3 linked regions of the Homo sapiens genome follow. The protein of the gene in region 3 interacts with the protein of the main gene of each other region in a biochemical or structural test. Each region holds a gene or a part of one and is shown on either strand. Other genes may lie near its edges.

Region 1 (7,034 bases), on a different chromosome or scaffold from region 3:
CTTGGAATATTTCTAAGGTTCTTACAGTATTTGAATTTTTAAAATGTTTATATAAAAACTGCATTTCTGTAGTTTACGGAAAATTTGAAAACATACTAATAAACTTAATTAGCTCTTTTGCATGTTGTAAATAAAAAGGATATGTAGTTCAAGGTTTTAATATTTATAATTAGAATAATCTTTTTGTTTTAAGGCTGCGGCAAGACATCAGTGCTCCTACTTAGTGAACCTGCATGTAAATGATTTCCTTCATGTTGGTGGGGACCCCAAGTGGCTCAATGGTTTAGAGAATGCTCCTCAAAAACTACAGAATTTAGGAGAACTTAACAAAGTGTTAGCCCATAGACCTTGGCTTATTACCAAAGAACACATTGAGGTAAGCAGTGGGGTAATATATCTTGGGAGTCATTTCAGACTTTTTTAGAGCAGTTTTAGGATTACAGAAAAATCGCACAGAAAGTACAGAGAGTTCCTATTTTCTACCCCCTGAATCTCTTCCCACAGATGCACATTTTCTTCTGTTACAGCATTTCTGTGGTACATTTGCTGTAATTGATATATTACTAGTAACTCTATAGTTCACATTAGGGTTCAGTCTTTGCATTGTATCGTTCTACACATTTTGACAAATGCCTAATGTCACGCATCCATTACAATATCATATGGAATAGTTAGTACCCTAAAAATGCCCTGGGTTCCACCTGTTCATCCCTTTCCCCCCCTTTCCCCTTCCCCTAAACCCCTGCAACCACTCATCTTTTTATTGTTTCTATATAGTTTTGCCTTTTCCAGAATGTCATACAGCTGGAATCATACAAAAGTATGTAGCTTTTCAGACTGGCTTCTTTCATCTAGCAACATCCATTTAAGGCTTCTTCATGCTTTTTCACGACTTGATAGTTCATTTCTTTTTATCACTGAATAATTCTCTATTGTATAGTTATGCCATAGTTTGTTTATCCATTCACCTATTGAAGGACATCTTGGTTACTGCCAGTTTGGGGCAATTACGGATAAAGCTGCTGTAAACATTCATGTATAGGTTTTTGTTTCTTGTTTTTTGTCGACAAAAGTTTTCACCTCATTTGGATAAATAATTAGGTGTGCGATTTGTGGATAATACGGTAAGCCTACGTTTACCTTTGTAAGAAACTGTAAAACTCTTCCAAAGGGCAGTATCAGTTTGCATTCCCACCAGCAATGAAGCAGCATTCCTGTTGTCCCACATCTTGGCCAGCATTGGTGTCAGTGTTTTGGATTTCAGCCATTCTGATAAGTGTGAAGTGGCATCTCATTGTTATGCATCTTTATGTTACGTTTTAAATGCCATGTTAAGCTAGTTCTGGTTCTATTTATTAATAGAGATAATAGAGTAAAAGTAGATTGATGTTCTCTAAAATTGTCTACCATGCACTATAAATTCTTAGAGATGCATCTTTTGGTCTTATCTATTTCATAGAATAGATACTATTAGATAATTAAAGATATTATCAAGAAGATACAAGATTTGAATATATTAATACAATGCCTATTATATATTGTCAAGTAAGGAAAAATTATACAAGATTACAAAATAGATAATGAAGCAGAAGTGACACAGAATTGAATAGAAGAATTATAGAAGTTATATATAACTTTTTGATGATTTAGGAATATTTAATCAAGTTGTTCAAGCCACTATCTTAAAAATTCCTTGAGGAGGCCTTATAATAAACAAAGCACAGGCGTTTCACACAGCAGCTTCTACTTTTAAACACAAATTTATTACATTTGCTTTGAGATTTTGAACTAACAACACAGTAATTCATTCATAATCCAGCATCTGAAATACAGCAGCCACTTTTAAGCAAAATGCATTCTCTTACATTTTAAGTCAATATTTCAGAAAATCAAAATAATAGTGAATGTCTTAACAGATTATGTTAAGTTCTATTTGTGAATGCATATTCATAAAAATTAGCAAATTCTGGGTTCTACATGTTTCAAATGATAATTTTATGCTAGGCTTTGTATGATGACTCATGTTTTCAATAAATTAAATACTAAAATGAACTGTATACTTTTACCACACCCCAGTACAAAAATATATTCTTTTTTTTTTTCCCCCTAAGGGACTTTTAAAAGCTGAAGAGCACAGCTGGTCCCTTGCGGAATTGGTACATGCAGTAGTTTTACTCACACACTATCATTCTCTTGCCTCATTCACATTCGGCTGTGGAATCAGTCCAGAAATTCATTGTGATGGTGGCCACACATTCAGACCTCCTTCTGTTAGCAACTACTGCATCTGTGACATTACAAATGGCAATCACAGTGTGGATGAGATGCCGGTCAACTCAGCAGAAAATGTTTCTGTAAGTATTATTTGTCATGAGATTGTCATAAAACTAATCACAATAATTGCTGTTATATTATTTCTTCAGTTGGCTTCTTAGAAAAACCCACCCTGTTAAGACTGTGGAGATATTGGGCCCCTATATCTATTCATTCAGTAGGGTTTTATTGACTGCCTCACATGCTCATCACTAGTCTAGGTGATATACAACATTTTACAAAAGTGATGTACAAAACTCTAAGACCCTGTAGGAGTTTACATTTAGATAATTTTAGGATCAGGAGCCAACAGCATGTGTCCCGTCAGGACCAAATAATATTGATTGGCTACTGCAGTGACATGAGGGAAGGCTGAAAATAGTGTGGCCTGGTGGTGGAGACTTTTTGTGCCAATCACATTCTTCTCTTTTGCACAAAATAAACAGTCTGGCTTCTTAATTTTTTATATTTCAGAAGATTTAATCAACTTTGATCTAGAAATTTCTCTCTTCAGAATTCTTTTTCATGTTTAACTTTGCACCAATATAGAAGGTGATATCAGGTGAATGTAAATGTGTTAAAATGCTTTCACCTCTATTCCTTCTGTTCCTGGCTTTTATATATTCTTAGTTTTGTTACTCCTTTGAAACAGAGCAAGTTCAGTTTTCTATAAGCAAATTTTAATTCCTGTATATGATGAATCAAAATCTCCTTCTGCATTCTTTTGTTGTAGTGAAAAAGCAAGGGTTTATTTTATGCTTCAAAAATAAATTTTAGAAGCAGTACCACAGCCATCTGAATGCTTTACATGCATTTTCTGAGTTATATTATCCCTTTGAAATAGATTTGACAGGTTGAATTGCCTTTAATTTATATATTTGACTTCGGGCAAGTTACTGAATCTCAGTTCTTTTGTATCTAAATAAAAGTAAAACACAAAGTTATTGTGAGGTTTAAATGAAATGTCTCTAAAGAAGTAAAATGCCAAGTACAGCACTTAGCATTTGTCAGGTGCTAAATAAGAGGTAGCATTTACATATGGTGAAATTAGCACAAGAAAGAATAATTTTCCCAAGGTTGATCATAGGACTGCCAAAGACCATCAGTTTCACCCTCCTTTGAGCTGCCTAGATTCATGTTATAGGCCTGCATATGGCCACTGATTATTTTTCAAAGCTTGGCAGTCAGAAGAGGATCCAAGAGAGTATTCAGTTGCTAGAATGCTAGGAGATGGATTCTTCTCCTTGCTACCAATAATTTAGTACAAGGCTAAAGAAAAAAGTACTTGATTGTTTCTAGTTCTCCTTCTATTAAAAGAATGAATAGTGAAAGAAGATAATTTTTATTTCTCTAATAAGCTTCCTATTCCCAGGTAAGTTGGATACTTTTAGAAGGTTTATGGCCTACCCTGATGACACTTTGACAGTGAGCTGATATGGCTTGTTCTTTAGGTACATATCCAGTATCTGACTCAGCTCTTCAGATACAAATGGTAACAAACAAGAATTTTCCCTCCCTCCCAACCCTGGAAACTACTTATTCATTTCTTTACTCTCTCCATAGTTGTCTTTTCCAGAATGTTATATAGTTGGAATCATACAGTACGTAGCCTTTTCAGATTGGCTTCTTTCACTTAGTAATATACATTTAAATTTCTTCCATGTCTGTTCATGGCTTGATACCTAATTTCTTTTTAGCACTGAATAATTTTTCATTTTCTGGATGTAGCAACATTTCTTTATTCCAGTAGCTACTGAAGAACACATTGGTTGCTTCTAAGTGTTGGTGTATTATTCTGTTCTCATGCTGCTAATAAAGACATACCCAAGACTGGGTAATTTATAAAGGGAAAGAAAAAAGAGTTTTCTTACACAATTTTAACATTTTAATATTAAAATGAAATGCCATTTTTTTTTTAATCCCAACTTTAGCAGATCAGTGAAGGAACAAAGAAACCTACTTTGTTTCCTTTCCCTCTTATTTCAATATAATTTATCAAGAATTACCTTTCCTAAGAATACTTAAAATTTGGGCTCTTTAAGAGGAGAATAGGTAAACAAAATAAATTAGTGACAGATAATGTGAGTTGACAGAGATCTTTTTTAAACTTTGAGTCATCCTGTCATGAAACCTAATCCTTTTCAGCTATTTTTTATTTGGTTACTGACTCTATGTCAGGAATAACTGGGGAAAATGCATGCATGCACCACAAGAATCTTCAGTATCGTCATAGAAACACTTCCCATCATGAAAGTCTTAGAGAAAGGGCTTAATACTGGGCATTTCAGTATAACTGTTTGGATCAAAAGAAAATGTAAAGCACAAGTGATATAGATTGTCTCTTAATATAGAATTATCCTGAGAGTCATTCTCCAGCAAGTATTTCTTGAATATCTACTATGTACCAGGTACTATGCTAGGCTTGGGATATATACAAGTAAACCAAACAGATTTCCTACCTTTATGAAGGTTTGGTCTGGGAAGGGAGCCTGCATTAAATCAATATCATGCGAGTAACAATTATAAATTATGATTGGTCCTCTGAAGGAAAGAGGAGAGGGTTGTGTTAGAATAATTGGAGCTTGTGGGGTAAATGACAGTGTTTACAAGGATGTAAGCTGCTACCTGAAGGATCAATGGGTGGAAGCCAGGAAGAATGGAAGATAGAGGTCTTAAAAGCATTCCTGGCAAAATAAATTTATAAGGGGGGAAACATTAATTTTGTATGTATACATTGAGATTTGAGATTAAGACTTTTTTTTCTCTTTTTGAGACAAAGTCTCTCTCTGTTGTCCAGGCTGGAATACAGTGGCACAATCACAGCTCACTGCAGCCTTGAACTCCTCCTGGGCTCAAGTGATTCTCCTGCCTTGGTCTCCCAAAATGCTGGGATTACAGGCATGAGCCACTAGCCCAACCCAGACTTCTTAATATATTCATTTTATAAGAAAGGTATAAATTGCATAGATTTGATCTAGCTTTTGTAGCAAGAATGCAGCAGGGTATAGAAGTATAACCAGTTTGACTAGTGCAAAACCACTTGGCCAGTCCTTTGTCAGCCCCATTACTCTATGTGTGACACTGCTCTAGTCATCCCAGCAAGTGACAGCTGCCAGATCCATTTGCAGAGGTCAGGTGGCCAACTCCAGCCATGTAGACATCTTTCATGTTTAATTGGTAAATTGTAGAAATAAAGCTAATTATTAAAGATGATAGACACATTGACAATATGTATGCCCAGTGTACACAGTTGATGCAAAATCACTTATACTTTGTGTATCTTATTTATTTAAAGATTAAGCAAGTAGAAGTTATCTTACGCAGTTCTGCTTTAAATTGACAAGTAGTTTAAAACAGCATAAATGGTAATGACATTATTGCTAATTTTATAAGGTAAAAGCATTAGAATGTGTTCTTAAAATCATTTTTTTCCTTATATTTTAAAATCTGCATGTCTGTATTCCTAATAGGCCAAAGTAGTTTTTTATTCATTCATGTACATTAAAATTATAGGAATATTTTCCCTATATTCTACTAAGATATAAATTCTGGCCAGGTGCAGTGGCTCACGCCTGTAATCCCAGCACTTTGGAAGGCCGAGGTGGACAGATCACAAGGTCAGGAGATCGAGACCATTCCTGGCTAACACGGTGAAACCCCGTCTCTACTAAAAAACACAAAAAATTAGCCGGGCATGGTGGCAGGCACCTGTAGTCCCAGCTACTCGGGAGGCCGAGGCAGGAGAATGGCGTGAACCTGGGAGGTGGACCTTGCAGTGAGCCGAGATCGCGCCACTGCACTGCAGCCTGGGCAACAGAGCAAGACTCTGTCTCAAAAAAAAAAAAAAAAAAAAAAGATATAAATTCTTATGAGACAGACTTAAAAGATAATTCATATATATTCTATGTCTGCCACATGTAACATTAATTGTATTTTTTCTTCAGGTAAGTGATTCTTTCTTTGAGGTTGAAGCCCTCATGGAAAAGATGAGGCAGTTACAGGAATGTCGAGATGAAGAAGAGGCAAGTCAGGAAGAGATGGCTTCACGTTTTGAAATAGAAAAAAGAGAGAGTATGTTTGTCTTCTCTTCAGGTAAGAACAACCATTATATAGTCAATATAATTATTGCAAACTCAACTTTTTATTTAGAGAATTTAAATAACTTTTAAAGCATCAATCTAAATATGTCCTTCCTTTTAGAGAGACTATTGCATAGGTATTCCTATTTACAAATAATTTTTAAAGCAAGCAACTAAGAAAAGGTCATAAGTGAAAACATCCTAGACTAAGGGGGAGGACATTTAATTTGGATTCTGGCACTAAAATTACTTCTAATAAGCTTTGTGAACTTGGCTTAGTCACTTAACATATGAGTGCCCTCTTTTTTCTCTTTTTTTTTTTTTTTTTTTTTTTAAGAAACAGGGTCTTGCTTTGTTGCCAGGCTGAAGTGCAGTGGCGTGATTGTAGCTCACTGTAACCTGAGACTCTTAGGCTCAAGCGATCATCCTGCCTCAGCTTCCTGAGTAGCTAGGACTACAGACACATGCCACCATGCCTGCTTAATTTTTTAATTTTTTTTGTAGAGATGGGGTCTTGCTATATTGCCCACGCTTCTCTTCCTTAATATGAGGAAATAGTCCCAAGATTGCTTCTAGAGTTAAAATTCTGTGATTTTTTTGGGCACGGCAGTTTGTACCTGTAGTACCGGCTACTCAAGAAGC
Region 2 (7,391 bases), on a different chromosome or scaffold from region 3:
TCCCACCTCAGCCTTCGAAGTAGCTGGCGCACACCACCACGCCTGGCTAACTTTTGTATATTTTGTAGAGACAGGGTTTCAGGCTGGTTTTGAACTCCTGGGCTCAAGCAATCCATCTGCCTCGGCCTCCCAAAGTGTTAGTATTACAGGCATGAGCCACTGCATCTGGCCGAGAAAGTTATTCGGGAGCCCAATACTACCAGTACTAGAGTGAAGCCCTTGGAACTTTCTGAAGATACACACATCTGAAGGCAATGAGCTCCTGAAAGGGAGTGTGTGGTGAAGTGACAGGGAGTTAAGGGAGCTGCACGCCTGGGTCTTCTCTTGGACCTCGGGCACCTGACTCAAAGATCAGCACCCTGCTGTCTTCTAAGGATGCCACCACTCAAAGCAGAAACCGTCCGAAGGTCCTCTTTTCTCGAGAGAGGAATACACAGAAATCTCCCAGATAGGCCAGGTGCGGTGGCTCATGCCGGTAATCTCAGCACTTTGGGAGGCCAAGGCAGGTGGATCACCTGAGGTTAGGAGTTCAAGATCAGCCTGGCCAACATGCTGAAACTCTGTTTCTACTGAAAATACAAAAATTAGCTGGGCATGGTGGCGGGTGCCTGTAATCCCAACTACTAGGGAGGCTGAGGCAGGAGAATTGCTTGAACCTGGGAGATGGAGGTTGCAGTGAGCTGAGATCGTGCCACTGCACTCCAGCCTGGGCAACAGAGCAAGACTCCATCTCAAAAAAAAAAAAAAAAAAAGATAAGAAAAAGAAACCTCCCAGATAGCAGCAGTTTTCTCCACTGAGGAAACATGGCTTCTGTGTAAAGATCCCTCCCTCAAAGCCTTTTCTCCCTAGACCAGGCACTGACCCAGAGAGGGGTGTACAGTGTCTGATCTCAGGAACAGGCTCAGGCACCCCCTTGTGAGACACTCTGGAGAAAGCTGTGCGTGCCATGGCCACGTTCTGATAATAGCAAGCAAGTATCACGCAGTTACTATGTTCCAGTCACAGTGCTTCAGCTTTTGCTTGTATTCTGAGTTAATTCTCCCAACAATCCCTTAGAGATACTGTAAAATCCCCATGGGAAGAAACCACAGATCAGAGAAGTGATTACTGGCTAAGCCACACACTGCAAGTTAGCAGGAGGGCTGGGACATGAACCCAGCACTCTTGCTCTCTAGTGTTCAGGTGTTCTCAATAGTAACATTATTTCCATCTTTCCAAAGAAGTCACACAGCTGAGAAGCTGCAGGAGAAGAGCCATTCCTCCACATGGCGCTCCTAAATCACGGCAGAGAAGGGTAAGCAAGCTAACAAAAACCAGGGCACAAACTATACACCGACGGAGGTAGGATCCCCAGAAACCACGTTACTAAGAGAAAAGCAGGGATTTTCCTGGGGTCATAGCACTCCACCAAATCCCAGGTCCAGAATACAACTTCCACCACACTCTAGGCCTGTAAACTAAAGCAACTAGAAGCTCCTAGTGCCGTGCAATCTCCGAAATCATAAGGCCAAAGAACAAGATATTCAGTGGGGTTAATGAAGAAAGCCTCTTTCTGAGCCCATCGTGGGCCTCAATGTTCTTCCTGTAAAATGGGGCTATAGCGTAGCTTGTATTGCTGGTTTAGTCCTGAGGACTTAGGTTAAAGGCGAAAAAAACTCAGAGCCTGGTATCTAGTAGGTGCATAATAAATGATAAGATGTCCATTATCGCTGCTGCTGGTAGTGGTGGGGGAGTGCGAACTGTCAGTCTGGTTAGGTCCAGCCTAATTCCCGGTCTCCCTGCAAAGCCCCTGCGGGCTATGCCGGGATGCGAATGCGGGGGGGTGGAGGGGAGCGGCGCGAAGGGAGGGTGGGGGAGGAATTTCTGGAAAACAAACTTCTGGGCCTTCAGACCACTTACTTAGCAGGGCGCAGCCTAACCCGCGCTTGGCTTCGGAAGCCGCGACCAGGGTTGTCCCCTCTCCCCCCAGCTTTGGCTGCCGCCGCCGCGTACCGGGCGGCCCGCCAAGCCCCCAGAGCCCCTGCGCTCTCCCTCCAAAGCAGGAGTGCGGTGGACATAGGATGAGGTCGACTTTCACTGGCCAGTCCCAGGTGCCTACGCCCCGCGCTGGGGGACAGGAGCCGGGAGGCACCCCAGGAAGGGTCCTCTGCCCGCCGGCCCCCGCGAAGAGGAAGGGACTCCGCGGAAGGGGGCGGGGAGGAGGAGTGGTCTGGCCGCTCCGGCCGGGATTTGCCTGGACTTGAAGACGCTCAGGAGCCCAAAGCTCGGAGAGCCTCCAGAAGGCTTCTCCCTCATTGGCCAGGAGTCCGAGGGAGCCGAGGAAGGATCCGCGGCCCTGGGGTGGGGCGGTGAGGGAGAGGGGGAGAGGGAGGGAGGAGGGGGAGAGGGAGGGGGAGAAGGAGGGAGAGGGGAGACAGAGTGGGGGAGGGGTGCCGAGGGCCGCGGCTGCCAGTTGATGCAACCCGGGTCCCGGGTTACGCGCTCGGCTTTCCCTCCCCGAGCCCAGGACACACCGACTCAGCTCCGGACAGCCTGAGGCTCAGACGCGGTTCGGGGTTCCAGGGAAGAGGGGCGTCGCGCGGCCGCCGCTTACCTCTCCGGGGCCCGAGTCGCCGACGCCGCCCGGGGCGAACCGCAGGTAGTCCTTGAGCTCTGCGCGGCACTCGGAGTCCGCCACGATCATGGTGCGCGCCAGGACCCGGTCGCGGCTCGCCGACGACCCGTGCACCCGAGTGGGTTTCGGAGGGACGCCCGAATGAAGCCGGGACTGGGCGCCGCCGGGGAGCTTCTAGAACCCCGGGGCGTCTCTCGGGGCTCCAGAACGCTCCGGAATCCGAGAACGGCCGCTTTGGTGCTGGACTCTTCCCCCAGTCGGGCTTCGGGAACGGCGAACGGCCTCGGGGGCCTGGGAAGGGCCGCAGCGCAGGGGTTTTCACGGCCTCGGAAGTCCGCAGGGGCCAGGGCTGCTCCCGGACCCAGCGCTCCTCAGCATCCCCGCCGCGGAACTGCCAGCGCTCGCCGGGCTCTGACACCAGCAGTTCAGCCCGCTGCGGTCCCCGGGGGAGGGCGGGGACACAAAAGCCCGGCGGTCCAGCCAATCAGAGGTCTGTTTCCCCGGGGAGGCGGGGGAAACTCCGCCCCCTGGAGTCACGGGCTCCGCCAATCAGCACCGGGGAGCGCCCGGAATTCTGGGAGTTGTAGTCCGCCTCGGGTGAATGCTGCAAACTTTTGCAAGACGGTTTAGTCAGATCCCTGGCAACACCAGACGGCAGTGACAGCCCTAAGAGTCATTAGGGTTGCGTGATGAAAAGGGACTTCACTGGGCTAGGCCAAACAGCCGAGTGTGAAATCTCCTAAATGAATTCTTCATCTTTTCAGTTCCTGGAGGGACTGGCTAGGGTTAAGAGAGGTTTGGCTCGCGTCCTATCCGGTGCTGCTAATTATAGAACTGAACCCCAGATATTTAGAGGTCAGAGGGCACAACCCTGCTCCCCCTGGCCTCGGGGAAGCTCCAAAGATGCGAGACACAGGGAATTCACCTTATTTGTGGAGCCTCAGGAAAAGCCTTCATTCCTTGAAATGTCATTGGTAACTTCGTGTGGAACCTCAATCCCTATTGCTGGAAGTTTTCTTCCTTCTGCTACCCGTCCTGGCTTCCACCCCTCCCACCCTCCTCGAAACTTTGTAACAAGGTGTTCTGCTGGATCTTTGCTCACCTCTCCCTCTGGCCTTCTCTGACTCCTCTTTCACCACCCACTTCCTAAAACGTGGGTGCTTCCCCAGTTTGTTTTTGCCCCTCTTCCCTCCAGACACTCTCCCTGATCTCATTCACTTCCTGGCCTTCAACTCGCCTCTTGCCAGAAAGTTGCCTCTACCAACACCTCAGCACCTCCAAGCTAAATTCATTTTCTATTCATTTCAAACGGAGCCTCTTCCTTCACAGTTTTCCTTCAGAGCTCCTTTTTTTGTTTCCATTTTAAAGTTATTGTTTATTCTAGACAGGGAATCCTGCCAGGGGTGAGGGTGGATAAGACCCCCAAGTCCCCCTCTGAGACTTCTAAGTCTAAGCTTACAATTCCAAAGATGAAACCGACTTGGTTTCCTGCCTCCAGATTCTTGGGAAAAAGAGATTAATCTCACCCTCCCCTGAGCTCCCAAGGCACTTGAGCTGGATCTCTTTTCACATGTATCACATTCTACCTAGTTTTTTTTGTTTTTTGTTTTTTTGTTTTCTGTTTTTTTGTTTTTGTTTTTTGTTTTTTAGTAAATAGAGACAGGGTCTCAATATGTTGCCCAGGCTGGTCTCAAACTCCTGAGCTCAAGCGATTCTCTCACCTCAGCCTCCCAAAGTGCTAGGATTATAGGCATGAGCCACCATGTCCAGCCACATTCTGCCTTGTATTGTAATTTTCTATGTACATGTTTTATCTGACCCTTTTTTCTTTTTATTAGTATTGTTTTTTAGAGATGGGGTCTAGCTCTGTCACCCAGACTGGAGTACAGTGGCATGATCATAGCACGCTGCAGCTTCAAATTCCTGGGCTCAAGCGATATTCCCTCCTCAGCCCCCCAAATCAATCACTGGGGTTACAGGTGTGCACCACTGAGTCTGGCTTATCTGATCTTTTTAATTGTAAACTCCTTGAGGGCAGGGTCAACATCTTTTTTTTTTTTTTTTTTTTTTTTTTAAACAGAGTCGCACTCTGTCTCCCAGGCTGGAGTGCAGTGGCCCGATCTTGGCTCACTGCAACCTCTGCCTCCCAGGTTCAAGCAATTCTCCTGCCTCAGCCTCCTGAGTAGCTGGGATTACAGGCAAGTGCCACCACACCCGGCTAATTTTTGTATTTTTAGTGGAGACAGGGTTTCACCATGTTGATCAGGCTGGTCTCGAACTCCTGACCTTGTGCTCTGCCCGCCTCAGCCTCCCAAAGTGCTGGCATTATAGGCATGAGCCACCGCGCCTGGCTGGCAGGGTCTACATCTTGACATCCATCTCCTGCTCTATGTCACCTAGCAAAATGTCCTGACAATCATATGCCCTTGGTCACGGAATCTTCCTTTGCATCAACTTCCTCTCTAAACTACCCTGTGTCAGCTTCAGCTTTCATTTAAAAAATTTACTATGTGGCCAGGCGTGGTGGCTCACGCCTGTAATCCCAGCACTTTGGGAGGCCGAGGTGGGCGGATCACGAGGTCAGATCAAGACCATCCTGGCTAACATGGTGAAACCCCGTCTCTACTAAAAATACAAAAAATTAGCCAGGCGTGGTGGCGGGTGCCTGTAGTCCCAGCTACTTGGGAGGCTGAGGCAGGAGAATGGCGTGAACCCAGGAGGCAGAGCTTGCAGTGAGCCGAGATCGTGCCACTGCACTCTAGCCTGGGTGACAGAGTGAGATTCTGTCTCAAAAAAAAAAAAAAATTTACTATGTAATGTCAAAGTCCAGATCAAAAGGCTTCACTGGTATTTCATCAGCTACAGAATTAAGATCAAACTCCTTGGGTGGGCATGGTGGCTCACGCCTGTGATCCCAGCACTTTGGGAGGCAAAGGCAGGCAGATCACCTGAGGTCAGGAGTTCAAGATCATCCTGGCCAACATCGTGAAACCCCATCTCTACTAAATATACAAAAATTAGCCAAGCGTGGTGGTGCACGCCTGTAGTCCCAACTACTCGAAAAGCTGAGGCAGGAGAATCGCTTGAACCCGGGAGGCAGAGGTTGCAGTGAGCTGAGATCGTGCCACTGCACGATCTGGGTGTCAGAGCGAAACCCTGTCTCAAAAAAAAAAAAAAAAAAAATCAAACTCCTATCTTAACATTCAAGGTTTGCCAAGATGCACCTAATTTACCCTCCCATTCTTACCACCTGCAACATCCATGTTTCTTGTTTGGCCTTCAAATCTTTCTTTCAGTACTCTTCTTGCAAATCTCTACCCATTGAAATAGTATCCATCATTCAATGCCTTCATTCCTGTTTGTGGCCTGAAGCAAGACTTTAAATGACACCTCCTCCAAAAAGCTCAGCTGAAAGTAATCTCACCCAGTCCTCAACATCTTCAACACATTCTTTTTATCTCTTTCTACCACTGATCTCCAAACTTGGTGTATGCTTGATATCATGTGTATATATCTCACCACTTCCCTCCAACTGATGATAAAAATCTCTCATTGACCACGTGTACAAAGTGAGAAAACTTGAGCTCAGAAAGGTAAAATTGGCCAGGCTTGGTGGCTAACATCTGTAATCCCAGCATCTGGGGAGGCCAAAAGGGAGGATCCCTTGAGCCCAAGAGTTCGAGACCAGCCTGGTCAACATGGAGAAACCCTGTATTCACAAAAACTACAAAAATCAGCAGGGTGTGGTGGCATGTACCTATAATCTCATGTACTTGGGAGGCTGGCCAACATGGTAAAATCCCATCTCTACCAAAAACATAAAAATTAGCCGGGTGTGGTGCGAGAGCCTGTAATCCCAGCTACTCGGCAGGCTGAGGCAAGGGAATAGCTTGAACCTGGGAGATGGAGGTTGCAGATTGTGCCACTGAATCAAAAATAAAAATAAAAATAAAAACAAAAATTGCTTATCAGGGTCACACAGTATCTTCTTTTGACTGCACAAGGCTGTGTTAGAGCACTTTTTTTTTGTTTGTTTGTTTTTTGTGAGACGAAGTGTCCTTCTTGTTGCCCAGGTTGGAGTGCAATGGTGTGATTTCGGCTCACGGCAACCTCCGTCTCCTAGGTGCAAGCAATTCTCCTGCCTCTGCCTCCCGAGTAGCACCACCACGCCCGGCTAATTTTTTATTTTTAGTAGAGATGGGGTTTCTCCATGTTTGTTAGGCTGGTCTTGGACTCCCGACCTCAGGTGATCCACCAGCCTCAGCCTCCCAAAGTGCTGGGATTATAGGTGTGAGCCACGGTGCCCAGCCGGCTGTGCCAATTTCTTAAAATAAGACAATAATAAAGTTGGCCACAAGGATCCACTCTTCCTTCCATGAAAGATTTCTCTGTAGCATGTGATACTGTTTGGTAACATGTTACCTACAGCAGAACTTCTTTCAAAATTGGAGTCAATCTTCTCAAACCCTGCTGCTGCTTTGTCAACTAAGCTTATGTAATATTCTAAATCCTTTGTTGTCATTTCAACAATGATCATAGCATCTTCACAGGAGTAGATTCCATCTCAAGAAACCACTTTCTTTGCTCAGCCATAAGAAGCAACTCCTTAAAGAAACAAAAAAAGAAAAGTCAGCCTGGGCCAACATGGGGAAACCCCGTCTCTACTAAAAATACAAAAATTGGCCAGGCGCAGTGGCTCACGCCTGTAATCCCAGCTCTTTGGGAGGCTGAGGTGGATGGATCACGAGGACAGAAGTTCAAGACCAGCCTGGCCAA
Region 3 (6,858 bases):
TTTCCACTTCCTAGAGTATATACCCTCCTCCCTCATCACCATACCTTTGCAAATGATGTTTCCTCTGGTTAGAGCACAGTTCCCTGTCTTCTGGGCCAAGTTAATACCTGCTCAACCTTGACGTCAACCACCCTCCATCCCCTCCCTAGTCGAGGTCTGGTTACTCAGACATACACTGTCATTAAACAGTATTCTTTCCCTTTAATCATCCATCTCTGTCTCTTCTACTGGATTATACACTCCATGAGAGCAGGTGAAGTATTTTTGGTGTTCCATTGTACCTCTAGTCCCCAGTACAGTGCTAGGCACTTAGTAGGAAGTTAATAAACATTTGTTAAATAAATGCATGTGCTGAATGATCCCTCTGACACTTCTCACAACTGCTATCTCCAAGTTTTACCTATTTCCTCATGCTTCCACTTCTACGCTCCCTAGGAGAGGCTGGCTCCGGCCAAGATTTAAATGTCTGCTATTATACTTTCATTTATTCTGTGACTATTGATTGGGCACCTTCTATGTTCTAGGCATGGTTATGAAGCTGGGAACACAGCAGCAAACATGAGCCGATGAAGTCTCTGGTCTAAAAAAAACCTGCACTGTAGTGATAAAATTAAGTCCAACCTTAAAAAGAGTTTCAAAATTTAAGAATGAGGAGGAAGAGGGGCACCTCACGTAACAGGAAGCAGCTACGACAGCAAAGAGGAACAGATACTGCCAAATAAGGGTTCATACTCATACCCCCACAAAGGAAATCTCTTAATTGGAGACATCATGAGATCTGGGCCATTTTCCCATCTCATTGAAAAATCAATGTTTAAATAAACACACTTTTTATCTAGGCTTTCATTCCACAACCCGACTCTTTATACCAATGGTCTATGGTAAGCAATCTTGATGCCACAAAGAAAAATCCATCTTACAAAACATAAAATACGAGTTTTAGCATAAAATTTAAAACTTTGATTTACATGACTCTCAACGGAGAATATCAGCATTTCTTCCCATGTTATGCACCTAAAATACTTCTATTGCCATCCACAAAATCTGATGACAGTAATTCATACAGAATCAAAACTTGAGAGAAAAAGACTAGCTAAATCTTCTAATTTCACAAAGGAGTAAAGTGAAGACCAGATGTTTGGGTGGTTATCCAAGGTCTCTCAACTTCCGTCCTAGATTACTGCAAAGAAAAGGATCAGCTACACGATATGCAGGACGTGGTGCAAAATAACAATGCAGGGCCCCTCATTTAAAAATTATTTACAATGTCCAGACAGTGACAGCAGACTGGCCATTAAACTAAGTGCTAGCCATTCTAAATGCTGGGCTCTGTGCTACTGCACAGGTTGCACATCATAAGAGTAGCCCTGTATAGAGAGGTGCATCTATGTCCACCCTTTTAAGAAGTGTATTTTTTTTCACCATGTAATATACAGGATAAACAGTTCCTTGCTCATGAACATACATCACCAAGAATCTGGTGTAAAGAAAACAATCTAGAGTCAGAAATCCTACAGCCACTCCCCAGCTCAGATCCTAACAAATCTTGTAATACTCCAAAACCATAAAACCGAGATAAAATCTATCCCATTTCCATCTCACAAAGCTGTGACAATCAACTGAAATGAGCTCTTCACATCACACAGATGTTAGTATTACTACCATTCCCTTAATCAGCCCTGAAAGTTAATGTTTTTTCCAAATTTTGGAGACATTAAAAAATTAGGTGTAGAAGGGGTGCGGTCTGCAATAATTACAGCTTGTATTTATATCCTCACCTTTCAAGTTTAACAAGTCTCACTTCCCATCAGTGATTTCTCAGCAAAGGAAAGCCATGCTGATTCTGTGTTCATTCACCAGAATATTTGCAACAGCACTGTCCAAAAGAAATACAGTGTGAGCCATATGATTTAAAAATTTCTAGTAGCCACATTTAAAAAGTAAAATTAGGTGGAATGAAATTTAAAAACACATTTTATTTAGCCAACATATCAACAGCATTATCCTTTCAATATGTAATCAATGCAAAAATTATTGAGGATTTTTACGTTTTTTTGGCACCAACTCTGGGAAATCCGATGTGTATTTTACACTTATAGCACATCTCAATCCCATGTGGCTACTGGACAGTGAAGTCCAACACATTAAAATACTACTCAGTGTACAAAGGATCCAACCACATGCTTTTTGATGTTGTCTTTTACTTTTCTTACCGTGGCAAATTACGAGAGCGGTTTCAAGAAATTTCCACCATCAGCATCTTCGAGGAGATGCACTGCACATATCCAAATTTCCCTTAAAATATACAAAAGGCCTGCAGTCATTTGCTAACCTATTCAGCAAAGTCCACAACATGTGTGAGGTTTCATTCATCCTCTTAATTTTCATTACTCATATGAGAAGAGAACAGAGCTCACCGGGAGACAGGCCGTTTAAGAAGTATAGTATTTAAGAGGGTACAACGGGAACAGGGCACGTTGCTATTCTAGGTAAAGCAGGAATCTGAGTCCGACTCTCCCGCTCCAGGCACCTGGCTGAGCCTCCCGGGAAAGGCTGGGACGCCGCTCCCCACAAGCCCGCCGCGGCGAAGGCTGTAGCGTGTTCCCTGCGCCCCGAGGAGGTCTCCGCAGGTCCCACGGCCGCCCGCAGCCCCCGGTGGCTCCCGCTGAGGCCCGGCCAGGCGGCCGGCCGCCCGGCGCGATTACCCTACAGCGCGGAACGCGCTCCCCGCCGAGACGCCCGGGCCTTTCAACTAGGCTATCTCCGGCCCCTCGCTGCGGCCGCGGCGCTCCCGAGAGTCGAGACGCGAACCGGGTCGCGCTCACTGACCTGAGGTGGCAGCGCGGCCGCCGCACAGCCGCTTCCGGCCGGGACACCGCCCCGCCCGCCGCAGGAGCCCGGACGCGGGCAAGATGGCGGCCGCGGCCGTGCGGCCCGTGACCTGGACCACTGGGCTGGGACCCACGACCCCACCACCACGCCTGGAGGACGCGCAGCGGCGCCTCGGCCTTGGAAGGGGAGTTTCCCAGCGCGAGCCCCGCCCTTCCCCGCCCGGGAGGCGCCTCGGGGCGGGGTCACTGGCCGGGAGGCCCCGCCTTCCGCCCGAAAGCGCCGGTGCACCCCGCAGGCCCTGCCCGTGGGTCCACAGGCCGGATCCCCGGGTTCCTAGGCTGGGACTGCTTCTCAGAACCACTCTGTCGTTTTTAAGCAGGGTCACACACTCTAGCTCACTGGGTCCATTTTAATTTCTATTAAACATTTTTTTTTTTTTGCAAATGATGTAGTAGGAGATCCAAGGTGTTTGGTTAATGATTTATTCACTCATTAGTCATTCCACAAACTTGTCTTGAGCACCTGTTATGTACCCAGCACTGTGCTGGAATGCTGAGGAGACAGGAGTGAAGTAAAAAGACATGGTTCCGGCAGGAAACAGGCAAGGAGAGCCTTGACTTGGTAGGGCTAACACAGTGCTACACAGGAGGGACGCCCGCTCGGTGTCGGGGGTCAGCAAAGCTTCCTTAAGGACCACTAGGTTGAGACAAGAAGGATGAGTATGGGATTAGCCAGGAAAGGGAAAAGGGCAGTGGGAACTGGAAGAGAAGAGCCTTCTAGGACTGGGAAAGAGCAAGTGCCGGGTCAGGAGAGAGGACATAGCAGTGAGGAGGCAGTAGGTATGGATGAATGAGCAGAGGAAGTGGGGAGAGATTAAGGTGCTTTCAGAAACGGGTTGGAAACCAGTTTAGTGAGTTTGGATGGCATTTACCTAAAGGCAATGTTAGAGTCATCGAAAGTTTTTAATCAGGCAAGTGGTATGATCAGTTTTTTGTTTTGTTTTGTTTTTTTTGAGACGGAGTCTGGCTATATCGCCAGGCTGGAATGCAATGGCGCGATCTCTCCTCACTGCAACCTCCGCCTCCCGGGTTCAAGCGATTCTCCTGCCTCAGCACCTCGAGTAGCTGGGACTACAGGCGCGCGCCACCACGCCCAGGTAATTTTTTGTATTTTTAGGAGAGATGGGGTTTCACCATGTTGGCGAGGGTGGTCTCATTTCTTGACCTCGTGATGCGCCCACCTCGGTCTCCCAAAGTGCTGGGATTACAGGCATGAGCCACTGTGCCCGGCCAGTATGATCAGTTTTTGCGCAGAGAGCTGGAGGGATAGAGTATCAGAATGAGGGATGATAGAAACGCAGGTTACCAGTGGCACGGAGAGTGGGCATGGAGAGAAGTGGGGGCCCTGGGGAATACTTAGAAGGCGGGATGAACAGAGCTTGGTGACTGACCAAGTGAATGACGGTGAAAGAGGATTCCAAGTTTTTTGTTCCCAAAACTGAGTGAATGGTGCTGCCTCAGGTGTCACGAGTCTGACCTCGAGGCAGTCTTCAGATGTCTGACAGTCTTTGCTTGTCTGTTCATGATTAAAAGTGGGTGGTCTTGGGCTTGTGGTGGTGATGGCTGTAAACAGCATAATGAGCTTAGTCCTGATGATCTTGGTGGCAGATGGTTTTGATAAGATGATGAGTTTGGGGAAAGTATTGCCTTTCCAATCCTGCCATTAGAAGAATGTAGGCTGAAGAAAGTGCTGTATTACTGAGAGGAGACATGACAGTATTCATCACTTCAAACACTATCTTGCCAATCTTCTCAGTGGTTTTGACCCTGGCCTCAAACCCCCACACAAAACCTCAGATCAATACAAATCTCTTCCTTATCCACTCCTACTATACATAGTTGAGGACAACTTTTCTGCTTGCACTCAGGAGATGACACTGCCTCCTACTTCAGAAAAGAAAATTAAAACTATTAGCTAGAATTTGCACAACCTCCCACTGCTTCCTCCTTCCCTCCTCCAACATCTTGATTCACTACCATTCTTACCTTCTTTTAGGTGACAAAGAGTAAGAGGAGGAACCCCATGTATATCTCCTCTTCTGGGACCTTGCACCATCAATTACTTCACTTCCATGTATCTTTGCCTCTCCATTTCTACTGGTTCTTTACTTTCAACACATACTCAAGTTATTCCCATTTTCTCTTCAAAGGAGAGGATCATATTTGCTCTCTGTAATTCCACTTCCCCCTCTCTCCCTTGAATTCACTCCATTCAGTCCTTCATGCCCACCATGCCACGAAACTGCCACTTGTCAAGGTCACCTGTGAGCTCCATGCTGCCAGTTTCAATGGCCAAAGCTTCACTCTTGCAACTTCTGTTGTTCTTGACTACTTCCTCTCTTGACATGTCTCATTCACTTTGTTGCATATCATCACTTTCTTCTGGTTTGTCTTTTATCCCTGTGACTTCACTGTTCCTTAAACATGACAAGCATGCTCTTGCCTCAGGGCTTCTTCACTAGCTATTCCCTCTGTCTGGAATGCAGAAATCTACATGACTCATACTCTCCCTTTACTCAAGACTGCTCACTTGTCACTGACTACCTATAAATTAGCTCCTTTGTTGTTGTCTTTATGACACCACAACTTCACATACGTCGCCATCTCTTTACTTTCCTATAGTTATCTTCTAGACTGTGTCTTCTCCTTATCTCCAGTTTTCATTCTGTATTTTTTTTCTTTTTAGTAAGAGGAAATAACTCTACATTCAAATTTGAGCAGGGCACTTGGTGACCTACTTAGACATGACATTCCTTGGCCTCCCTTTCAGCAAGGTAAGGCTATATCAAAAAGTTATGTCCTGTAAGATGTGAGTAGAACTGGATCATGTCCCTTAAAAGGAAAGCTGCTTGCTATACACTTTCTCTTCCCTCTTCTTGCTGTCTGGCAAATGGCAAAAAGAAATACAGACTGGAAATGGAAGCCATGTATTAAGGAAGGCAAAGCTGTTCTCACTAGCCTAAGTCCCAAACTAATCTCAGGGAGCTGGGGCACCTCCTCCCTTGGATCAACCACAGACTTCTGGACCATTATGCAAGAGAAAATAAACTTTGTTCTTTAAAAAATCATTGTTTGTTTGGACCTGGTAGAGCAGCTTAGCCAATTCCCTAATTAAAACAGAGGGGCTCTGTCTATTTTATTCTCTGCTTAATCACCAGGATGTAAAACAGTACCTAATAAATGTGGTAAATAAAAATGTATTGAATAAATCCTAAAACAACGTATTTATTCTACATCCTCCTCCAGCTAATGTCCCTTTTTCAACTTTCTTTTCCACTCAAGCTTTGTGAAAGTATATATTTTTTCATATTGCCACTAATTCTTCTAAAGCCCCTCACAGGAATAAGTGACACCTTTCTCAGTCTTTTTGGAAACTGATTCCCCTTCTCTACTAAACCAAGATCCTTGCAGGTAGCAATCTTTTAGCATGGAACTTTGGATTTCCCTTAGCACCTGTTGCATAGGTATCCAAAAAATATTTACTGAGTTGAGTGAGTGCTTTGTATCTTTGGAAACAGTAAACCGTAGCAGAGAACTTGACAGACTGGTCTGAGATTACACTAGTTGCCTTTACTAAACATGCGTTTTACAATAGATCCTAGGGCCACTGTAGTTCAGTCTCGGTATTTTGTTTGTTTTTAATTTAAGCTTTTGTATTCCTAATAGGATTTTTTTATTGTTGTTTTTTTGAGATGGAGCCTCGCTCTGTCGCCCAGGCTGGAGTGCTGTGGTGTAGTCTCAACTCACCACAATCACTGCCTCCCAGGTTCAAGTGATTCTCCTGCCTCAGCCTCCTGAGTAGCTGGGATTACAGGCATGCGCCACCATGCCTGGCTAATTTTTATATTTTCAGTAGAGATGGGATTTCACCATGTTGGCCAGGCTGGTCTCGAACTCCTGACCTCAAGTGATCTGCCTGCCTCATCCTCCCAAAGTGCTGGGATTACAGGCATGAGCCACTGCGCTT

What was found.
Region 1: the proteins of MIOS (region 3) and SESN1 form a complex in vitro, tested with the Homo sapiens proteins (one study listed by BioGRID).
Region 2: the proteins of MIOS (region 3) and SESN2 form a complex in vitro, tested with the Homo sapiens proteins (one study listed by BioGRID).

The regions. Positions count from the first base shown.
Region 1 is NC_000006.12:108,993,833-109,000,866, reverse strand, and holds part of SESN1 (sestrin-1), read left to right. Parts: intron 1-193; coding exon 194-376; intron 377-2,111; coding exon 2,112-2,354; intron 2,355-6,257; coding exon 6,258-6,405; intron 6,406-7,034.
Region 2 is NC_000001.11:28,255,141-28,262,531, reverse strand, and holds the start of SESN2 (sestrin-2), read right to left. Parts: upstream 3,015-7,391; 5' UTR 2,685-3,014; coding exon 2,595-2,684; intron 1-2,594. UniProt on the Homo sapiens protein: Functions as an intracellular leucine sensor that negatively regulates the mTORC1 signaling pathway through the GATOR complex. In absence of leucine, binds the GATOR subcomplex GATOR2 and prevents mTORC1 signaling.
Region 3 is NC_000007.14:7,563,044-7,569,901, reverse strand, and holds the start of MIOS (GATOR2 complex protein MIOS), read right to left. Parts: upstream 3,019-6,858; 5' UTR 2,830-3,018; exon of another isoform or gene 2,296-2,829; 5' UTR 2,214-2,295; intron 1,877-2,213; 5' UTR 1,779-1,876; intron 1-1,778. UniProt on the Homo sapiens protein: As a component of the GATOR2 complex, functions as an activator of the amino acid-sensing branch of the mTORC1 signaling pathway. The GATOR2 complex indirectly activates mTORC1 through the inhibition of the GATOR1 subcomplex.